2 separate regions of the Homo sapiens genome follow, and region 1 is linked to region 2. Evidence: fine-mapped expression QTL. A gene starts in region 2. The other region holds a variant in brackets. All regions are shown on one strand. Distances are from middle to middle.

Region 1 (5,389 bases), 660 kb before region 2:
GTCTTTGGTCCTCTTTTTGTAAGGTAATAAGTTTCAGTTCCTTCTAGTGCCATCACTGCTCTGCACATCCCTTTAATTGTCTAGGCCTCTTTTAAAACATAGTACTCAGAATTGAACACAGTGGTGGAGAGTTGGAATCACAGACTCCCATTATTCTTTTCAACTCTAAAGTTACCGTTTTTTCTTTTTTTTCTTTTTCTTTTCAGAGTCCGATAAACCTTAAATGTTGAGTAGATCGGGTGGATATTTTCTGTTTTGTCTGCACAGTGTCCTTTTCCTCGGGGCATAGCACTCTCCTCTTCTCTGGGACCTGCTCCTCTCCAGGTCCCACTCTGGGAATTGCTAACTGCTTGTTAGCAATTCTCTCTCCTTAGCCACAGAGATTCATCCCAGCATAGACACCTATCACAAACCTAAACAATCAGATTTTCTTTTCTGTGATTTTTCTAACCAGAGCTTATAATTTTGGTTTCTAAGATGGTGAGGATAGAAATCTGAAGCTGGCCGGGCACGGTGGCTCACATCTGTAATCCCAGCGCTTTGGGTGGCCAAGGTGGGTGGATTGCTTGAGGTCAGGCATTCAAGACAAGCCTGACCAACATGATGAAACCCAGTCTCTCCTAAAAATACAAAAATTAGCCAGGTGTGGTGGCGGGCGCCTGTAGTCCCAGCTACTCCAGAGGCTGAGGCAGGAGAATCACCTGAACCCAGGATTTGGAAGTTGCAGTGAGCCGAGATCGCACCATTGCACTCCAGCCTGGGCGACAGAGCGAGACTCTTACCTCCAAAAAAAAAAAAAAAGAAGAAGAAATCTGAAGCTACAGGTGGCTGGCTTCCATGCTTTCTGGAAATGCTGGTCAGAAGTGGCACAAGGAAAAATACCAGGTAGCATCGTTGAAACCTCTGGAGCCACTCACACCTAAGGCTGTCCTTTCCACATTTTGGTTATTTCAGCCAGTGTATTACTATTACTTTCCCTTGTTTTTCTCCCTCCTTCTTTTTTCTCTCCCTTCATTCTTATTTCTTTTTACTTTTTTTCTAATATTAATTTACCTTGCTTTTCTCTAACTGGCAACTAAGTGAGAAAATCCTACCTAGCATATTGGGTGACGCAGAGGTGCTATGACTGCAGGAAAAGAACAAATAGTTACCTGGCTGAATGAGAAACTCTTCCCCTAATAGAGTTGATCATGAATTTTCTATGATTTCTAGTCTATTCCAATTAGTTCAGGAACATGTATTTTGGGAAACAATTATTTAATAATGTGACTTCAACTATGTCTTCTTAAATTCTTGTATCCAAAGACTAGTAAATTAACCATAAGTAATGGTTCAATTAAACTGACTAGAATTTTGGGCTATGTGGCAAGTCATGCCATAGTCTCATTGTAGATAATAATTGCCTTAATCTTTGCATATTCAGAATTCTGCCTCAAACTTATTCCAAAGATCTATAAAACTCTGCCAGGTGGTTTATCACACACATTTTGGGCAAGTGGTTTTTAGCTTATCTTTGGGCCTGGAGACATATATTTAAATGATCTTAGTGAAGAAAAGGGCAGGACTGTTTTGTGTGCTCTGATCTCTACTTCTGTGGAGTGTATTTATGATCTCCTGAGTTTGACTTCTAGCCCAGATCTGGCTTCCAGCTGGGGAGGGGAGACCATGGTGAACAGCTCGATCTACCAGCTCTCCTTCATAATGCTTCCCTCTCCTATACACAGAAAAGGATTCTGAGGCCAGAAAAAAACCATTGCAAGGAGAATTTGCCTAAGGGTTGGTCTTAATCACAGTCTATCATACTTTCTGGACAAGTTGGCTAACCCATGGTTTAATTTACTGGGTGGATAACAACCTTTTGGGGTTGTGAGTAGCTTACTGTCCCTCTCTTAGCTTGTGGTAACTGAACAAAGGCTTGCAACATTTTCCTGGGTCTGAGTCGTGATGTGTCCCTCTGTGTGTATGTATGTATTAGGAGGTCATCATGTTCTTTCAATAATAAATGAGAACAGCCTGCTCTTGGTTTGGAATGTTTACACCCTTTTGCAATTTAATTAGAAATAAGGATTTTAAGATAAATGAGTGTGTGGGTTTACATGGATAATTGTACTCAAATCAAAGGAGAGGTGACATTTGTGAAAATTTTCACATTTAGAAATATGTAAGTACATAAAAAGTTGTGAGGTTTTGTTTACCCTGTAAAAATAAGATACCTTTCTAGATATTTTCTTCCTTTTCCCACATCTCTGAAATTGGAACATTTTCCTATTTACTTTTACAGTTCCATGTATTTTATTTCAAAAATAAGAAAAACAATAAGTTTATAGGTCAAACTAAATTAAACACAGTATATTATTTTGTTCCTAAGCAAAAGGAAAAAGTGACTTTAGATATGGAAAGGCACCAGAAGAAAAAACATTTCAATTTCCTAATAT[A/G]TGCTATTTCTAAAAGCTTTTTTCACTGTAATTGAATTTTAAAAGAAAAGTTAAACCTCTAAATATGTGTACATATTTATATATATACATTTATATATAATTTATTTATACATTTATATATAATTTATTTATATATATTTGTATACATATAAAACTAGTTAACTTAGTTCACATCCTATTTATGAACTCTTTACTGTTTGCAATAACACTTGTAATTTAGGCCTATTTATTTCAAATCTTTTTGAACAGTAACATGAATTCAGAAAATTTCTAGCTAAGATTAGAGGTACATTCTGCAGTCGTGCAATAAGTCAAATACAACCAGTTCCTACTGGCATTAACTTTTGATAATGATTCAATACCAATTTCCCCTAACCTATGTATGTGATAACATAAATCTAAACCATGGTTACTGTTGACGTCATGGCTGACATGTCATTGAGAAGTCATCCGGAGGCAGCTTATTTAAAATATTGACTAATATGTGCTTTACTTTGCTAATAGCCTTAGCAAATTGGTTTTCCTTTACAGTATATTAGTACCCAGAAGGTTGCTAGGTTAGCATTAACTGCGTACTGTCAACCTTACTAGTTTCCAAATGTTAACCATAAAATATGTTTTATTTTATAACATATATAGGCATATACAATATATTAATAAGTATATATAATAGAATATATTAATATTTATAATAGAATAATATGATATATATTATACAATTATATGAAAGAAATAGAAAACCACTGGTAAGACTGACTCCAGAAGTTAAAAGCACAGAAGTAGCAGCATGAAAGCAAATTCCCAGACTTAATGGAAAAGCTTTTTCTAACAGCTTTGTTATCTCTTAAAAGTTAGTGGCTTCTGATAAATATCTCCCTATTTTTTAGTTATCACGTTTAACAATTAGTCTCTATTATTTTGAATGGTAATTACAAAGAAACAAGAAATGACAGGTCTTTGCTATAAAATCTGTTATTACTACAAAATTGATCTAGGTGAAGTTGTCCTGTCCCTCTTTGTCCCCATTTCCGTCCCTCAGGCCACTTTTTTGCAAACCCCAAATTTACATCCTCACTTCTGTCCAAACTGATGAAACATTTAAAAAATCTACAGAAACTTAAAATGGGAGCAAACAAGCTAGTAATGTACTACTGCCCCCTTGGCACTTGTAAGACCTTTTCTCTCTTGCTAAAGTAATTTTCCAGTAAGAAATGGGGAAGCCTTTCTCAAGGTTATGTCAGTGCAAATGGTTGTAGAAGAGCCCAGAGACTCCATTTTATTCTTTGTAATAGTCAGAGAAGAGTGATTGCTTCCTTGACTTTGTGGCCTTGACCATTCCTTAAGTGGCTGAGTAAAAAACAACAACATGTCTCAGAGGAGAGCTTTCTAATGGTTTTCCTGTGGTCCATTGCCCCTGGGGTGCTTCCATCACAGCGAGTCACCGTGGTGATGCCACAGTTTGAGCCTTCCTCTGAACCTTTTGCAATAGTGACACTGATATCATTTATAAAATTAATGCACCCTGGTTCAGTGGCATAGTTGCTAAGAAAAGACAATCTCTTATGGAATACATGAGTGAAAAAACAATGAACATAGACTAACACAAAGAATAACTTCTGATGTAAGTTTTTTATTAAGCCTGGAATAGCTCTTAAGAAATAAGCAGGATTGACACTTCTCATTTAATGTAGGAATGACCTACTAAGCAATGAACAAATCTTGCAAGTTTTGTCATTTACTATCCTCCAGACATCTGATTCAAGACTTGATAGCTGTCTGCACCACCCTTTCAGAATCTAACAAACAATTTGTTTGAAAGCATTGGAATGAGGTGGTGATGCCCCAAACAAGGTTTTTGCCCATATATCTTTAAACTTAAATGATATTAGTGAAGTCTATGTTTGTCATTTGGTGTAGTACAAGTAGCTATAACATAGCTGTGAAGATAGGGATTGAGTTACTTGTATTCTCAGCATTTCTGATGTACTTATTCTATCTAAAACTTTCTTCATTGGGAATGGCTAATGCAATTGATATGATCAATTTTTAATCAGCTTTTCTTAGAAAAAGATTTATTTTGTTGGGTTATACCAAATAAGCTTGTATGTATTATTCTTAATAGTATCCTTACCTGTGTCTTGCTCCACCCTTGAACAACTAGATACTGCATCTGGTCAAACTTTCAAGTAAACAACAATCACTAGGTATGTTTCAGATGGTGGGGCAAGATATTAGGACAACAGTGCAATCTCTCCATATGAAAGGCAAGTAAGTGCTATGGAAGGTGTGCATGGCAAGACTAAGTTGTTTTTCTTTCAAACAACTTACTTCACATCTAATTGAAACATGACCTATTATTGGATCTTCCAAGTTACTTGTGTGTCTTGATTATCAAGAGGACTTCCAACATTTAATTTGTGTGAAGAAAAGGGGTACAACATGATTAGGTGCCTGTAGAGTCCATGTCGTAGGTTTTTCTTCCAGTTAATAAAACCGGTTCATGTCCTGAGTATGATGCACCCAGTAATCTGTATAGTTAAACACTGGGGAATAAACATTGTATTACTTGACTATTGCTGCTGAAATAAATTGCTGCAAATTTCGTGGTTTAAAATGACACAAATATATTACCTTGTAATTCTGCAGGTTAGAAGTTTGGGGTAGGTCTCACTTTTACACTGGGTCAAAATAAAGGTGTCAGAGGGCTATGTTCCTTCTGGAGACTCTAGGAGAGAATCAATTTTTTGCCTACTCCACCATCCAGACACTGTTGACATCCCTTGGCTTGTGAACCTCATCCATCATCAAAGCCCATGGTGACTGGCTGAATCTTTCTTATATTTCATCACTCTGACAGTGATGAAGATGAGGCATCTTCTGCCACTCACTTCCACTTTAGAGAACCCTTTGATTACAGTGAACTCACCTGGATAATACAGGATAGCTTCCCTATT
Region 2 (5,389 bases):
GAGAGTGTGTCTGTGTGCCTGTGTGTAAATGCCAAGTTGCACCAGATTACCATAGCAACCCCAACAGGACACTGCAGTGGGCAGCTTTGCACAGAGGTGCAGAAAACCCGTTCTTATAACATCTGGGCTTTCACTGTGCACATTGGTTCCTAGTAGGCACATCACAGCATTAGGCCCTGGTTTTGGGATTCTGCAAAAAAGAAATGAAATGTTGAATACCTGCTAGCCCTCCCTTTTTTTAAGCACCATGCTTGTACCTCTTCATGCACAGTAAACACTACAAGCAGAGTGCAAAACAGCCTCTTTAGAAACACATAATTCCCTCTACTCACTTTTATATACTATGATGAACAGATTGTACTTTGCATATCAGCATGACTTCAACGTGAACTTTCCATCCTCCAAATAACCCAGTAATTGTACATTTTGATGAGCGGCATATCCACAATGCTCCCATTTCCAGCTAGTCCCCAGTTTTTATTATGTTATTGGTATTTTTGAAAGCAAAAATAAATAATCCTATCAAGAGCATAGGTTGGGTTTAATGGGTTCAACTGAGCTGCACTCCGGGAACTATAAAGCAACTTTTCAAAGGGCCAGGCAATTTTTGAAATTGCTTTTCCCTAAGGGTTGGGGAGTAGGGGTTTATTCACTCACTTCCTAGTGTTTTCAGTGTGAAGACATCTCCTATGAAGGAAGAGCAAGAGGGATGTGTTAGAATTCCACATGTGGCTCTAGCCTACATGTGGCCATCAGGAAACCATGTTTCTGCAAATGGAACTGTAGTTGGTAGGGTATCAAGTAAATGGAACAGCCTCCTAGACATTTTCTTTTTTTCTCTACTTGGATCTAGAGACTGAAGTGTGGTTTTCTTTGAATTTCTCCTGGGCAAAATAAGAATAATTGGCAACATCACTAAAGAAATGGATTGCATGGTAGGCATGCACAGCAAGGTGAGAGCTCCATCTACACATGGAGAAGTGAGGGGAATTTGGCAAAGTAACATGAACTTGTGGTGCTTTGCAAGATACTAGAGCAGGACCACAAAACCTTTGCAGCTTAGTAGTGGAAAACAGGGATGATTTGAAGTAATGTATGGGTTCCAGTACCTGAAGTGACAGGAGTTCCACTACCTGAAGGTGACCTAAGAAAATTACAGTGGGAGTACCAAAAAGAGAGAGATGTAAACAAACAAAGGAAGGAAGAGCCCCTTGCCTAGAAAGGTCATTCTGTGTGCAGGAATGCCTACGCCTATCTAAGGTGGCCCTGGGAACAAAGAAGAGACCAATACTAACAGACTACAGTTGTATAATATCTTTAACCAACTGTGACGTGACATGGATGTGTGGATGTGGTTGAATTAGGGGGTTGTGACATCTAAGCATGGAGGTAGGACTTCCCAGAATGAACAGCTGGGGGATAAGAAACTTGAGTGTTTGGAAGGGAGGGTGTCAGTAGCCTGGTGACAGATAAAGGGCTCTCCATGAATGAAGACTAGAATCTGGCTTGCACATAGCTGGCAAGGTGATGACAGGATACCTGTTTCTAAAGCCCCCAGGAAGTGCTGTAGGTGGGTGTGGGTATCCAGAGTGAGTGAAGCAAAGAGCTGAGCATGTGGCTAGGGAGTGGGGAGAAGGGATTATGGGAGTTGAACTGGTAGCAGACAAAAAGTGCTGTGTGGATGTGCTCCTGAATCAAAGCTGGGAGGTCAAGGCTGGGAGAGGTTTCAGAGAGACTCATGCAACCTGTTTCTTTGAGGCAGGGCAGCTGAGAGGAGGCTCAGCATCCAGGTCGGATTTGGGGAGAAGTCAGGTGCACAGAGGCGCTAGTATGCAAGTGGGTGTGGAGAATGGTCCGGGAGTGGGGCGGATCCGGGAGGTAGGAGTGGGGGAGGGGAGGTCGTCGGCGAGTGGGTGTGTAGAGCGAGCTGGAGTGGGGGGTGGGGGCGCCGGTCCAGCGCCTCCGGCCGCCTCGACCTCCCCCGGGACTCACCCAGCACGAAGTAGGGCAGCTCCGTGTTCTCCAGGTCGTCCACCACGACCATTTCTCCCGGGAAGTCGTTGCGCACCGAGAAGAGGAGCTTGGGCTCCGAGGCCGAGGGGCTGTGCATGATGCTCAGGTCGTTCTCGCGCAGGAAGGGCAGTGCCGACACCGTGATGCTTTTGAGCTTGCACTCCAGCTCCTTGGATGGATCCACGTCGCCGGCGGCCGTGGCCAGCACCGCCGCCGGCCCCCAGCAGCAGGCGAGCAGGGCGCAGAGCCCGGCTAAAGCCATCTTGAGCCCCGGCCGCCTTCCTCCTAGCGCTGCGATGGTGGGGGAGGAAGCGAGCGGGGAGGGAGCGAGGGAGCGAGCGCGGGAGGCGGGGGAGGTTAGGGAGGGGATGGAGAGCCGGGAGAGCCCTGGACCCCGGAATGAGATGCCGCTTGCAGAGTCCTGGGTTTAAGCTCTGATGTCTGGAGAGCCCCGGATTCTTTGTTTCCCGGAGCTGCTTATCTGGAGAAGGGAAAGCGGGGGAGGGGGGAGAGGAGAAAAAGGGAAGGAAGGACGTCGAAAGGAAAGAGGAAGGGAGCTGAGGATTCTAGGGAATCAGGTCAGCCCCCAGCTGGCTGCCGGTGCTCCTGCCTCTCTCCTCCGTTGCATCCTCCAACACGAGCAAGGCTCTTGGCTATGAACTACCTGCACGGCATTTTTAATACATTGATCTTTGCAATGTAAAATCTTCCCTCTCGCATCATCATCCAGAAGGCTTGAGAGAGGCACACACAGACATACACCTTAAAGGGCGCTTCTGCAAAGCTGCGCGGTGAGGGGAGATGAAAATTCCCCCAGTGGTTTTGTGGATGTATTATAGCTTGTCCGAATCTTGCTTCCACCCCGCCCCGTCCCCCACTAGTTGGATTTGTACATAGGATAAACGGGAGCTGGGAATGCACATGTGCATATTTTTACTTAGCACTAACTTTGCAAAATATTTAAAGAAAATATTTGTTATACTGGTTTAGATGGATGGATAGATATGCACAACAGAGTAAGGTGCACAGTTAAGCAGGAGATCGAAACTTTTACTCGCAACTTCTCTCTGCTTCATTTCATTTCTATCACAAATTTTATCTGTAGTAACCAATAAAAAGATGATTTGGGGAATATTATAGCTGATAGAAAAAAAGTAGGGTTAGCTCAAATAAATCTTGAAACTTTAATTTTAGACAATCTAGTAAATAGGACAAAGCTGGAAAGAAATTGTGAGAAAAACCAAAGTTCCTAAGCATTCTTAACAGATGGAAAAGTAATAAAAGAATATCCTTGGGTATGAGCTAAGTCAATCCCAATCCAGTCAAGAGTACAACAGGGAAGATGTTCAGCACCCTGCGTAAGTATTCTGAAGAATAACACCACCACCACCACCACCAAAACCCATGTAAGATCTGTTCCCAGTAGTGCTCAACAATGTTGCCTTTTAAAAATGATGACAATATGCAATAAACAGTGGTAGAAAAGTGACATTGTGTATTCTGAAATCTGACATTTAACTGAACTTTCTCTCACATGATAACCAATAACTTATTTCAAAAGTGTGTCCCTCCATTGTTATTGGGTCAATGCTAACTTCAATACTAGGTGCTGTGAAGACTGTGTTATTTGTAGTTCTCACTCTAGAAATTTAATGCACTACTGTTCTAAAAGAGGACCCCTACTTAAGAAACAATTACATTTTCATTCTACCTGGTGTCAGTTTATTGGCATATGTGAAAATATGTTCTTTAAAAGACAAAAAAGCTTTTGCCATATATTTTACAAAGTTTATCTAATTGAATAGAGAAAATAAGCCATATTTAAGGTAATGTTTAAGTAGTGAAAGATCATTTACCACATATGCAAAGAAAAGAAGAACAAAGACACTTTATTAGTTGAGTTTTTATATGTAACTTATCTGGGAATTAACCCCAAGTTATCTTACCATGCAGCATTGCAAACTACTGTAAACTACTGTAAAAAAGATGTACCAGCTAACGACTTTTGAAAACTCATCCTGATCGTCATTGCTCCCCTAAGAGATACTGAGTGAGACAAAAACCCCATGATATCTCTTTCATTCTGTTATCCCTAGCATAAACAAAAATCTAGTATTAAACTTACTTATGCAAGGTTATTTGCCATTGAATAATTATAGTGGATGTCAGGAACACACCCTTGATACTAGAATGTGAGAAATGGCATGTAAGTACCTGATCATGTATTCATCCAATCTCTCACTTAACAGATAAGGAAATTGAGACCCATTAAAGAGTGATCTATCTTCTATGGAGCTAAGACCATGAACAAGATTTCTTTGCCCACTGCTCTTTCCACTATATGGTTATGGTACACTAGGGTGCACCCATGGATAATCACTGGGCTTTATGGACCACAGTAATTAATTCAGCAAATGTTTGTGTACCTACTGTATCATAAGCATTAGGCTAAGCACAGCCAGAAAAATACTACTCCTGCTTTTGAGTAGCATATAATCTACTGTCACTTTGAAATCTTTCTTTCTAATTTTCTGAAGATTCTTGAGTCATGTTAGAAAGCCCAAGTAAACCATTTAGGGTTGATTTTCCAATAAGTCAATATCTAGTCTTCTTAAAATGTATATTGAGTTGGGCATAGTTGGTAGTTGGTATCTCAAGTCTTTCTAGACCTCTCTAAACAAAACCAAACAAAAGAAACAGTAGAATTTTTTAAAAGAGAATATATTATTCCAGAGTACTTGATTCCTGTAAAAATGGAAATAATGTCACATGGCCCTTTCTTAGGGAATTAAATACCTAGAGATGTGGGTAAAGGTTGAAGTACATGGAAACCAGGCCATCTCTAATGCATGATGTTTTACATTTAGAGGAGATGGGGGAAAATGTTATGCATCTCAATCATCACCTTTGTGTAGAGGCATAATGATATAGTGAAATAATAGAACTGGATTCAAGACTTAACTTCATAATATTCTTATTTGGAGATAAGCTTGGACCATTCTTGTCTTTAGTTCCCCATCAACAAAAGGGGCCAATCATCTCCGCTCACCCCTGCTGGTCACAGAAAATGTTTCTGACTTTCATCACCAAAGAGTAATGTTACTTGCTCTTGAATTTTATAAATATAGAATCTTAGAGTATATGCTTTTTTGTGTCTTAATATTTTCACTCATCATTATGTCTGTGAGATTTATCCATGTAGTTCAATATTGTATTGCTGTGTACTAGTCCATTACATGACTACATGGCATTTATTCATTCTCAGAAAATTTCTATTCTTTAAAACACTGTAAAACAGCAAGCGCTGTTATCTCCAATCTTCACTTTTCTCCTGAGATACACCTTCCTGTATTTAAGCACCAATGGCCTCTTTCCT

Which allele goes with the higher level. Positions count from the first base shown, and alleles are read on the strand shown. Sizes are in standard deviations (SD) of each study's normalised expression.
For the expression in skin of the gene that starts at base 2,311 in region 2, G is the low allele of the variant in region 1 and A is the other (large effect, 1.0 SD a copy in TwinsUK).

What was found. PIP is the estimated chance that this variant, and not a neighbour inherited with it, causes the effect. A credible set is the group of variants that fine-mapping cannot tell apart.
Region 1: its variant is the best candidate, but not a certain one, in a credible set for the expression of ASTN1 in skin (TwinsUK, PIP 0.63).

Annotation. Positions count from the first base shown.
Region 1 is chr1:176,497,966-176,503,354 of GRCh38, forward strand. All of the region lies in intron 1 of PAPPA2 (pappalysin 2), which reads left to right. Among named protein-coding and RNA genes, the nearest start is that of PAPPA2, 37 kb to the left of the region's middle. The variant A/G (reference allele first, on the strand shown) is at 2,436.
Region 2 is chr1:177,162,402-177,167,790 of GRCh38, forward strand. It overlaps ASTN1 (astrotactin 1), which reads right to left and starts at 2,311. Exons shown (of 23, transcript NM_004319.3): 1 at 1,993-2,311. The coding sequence starts at 2,275.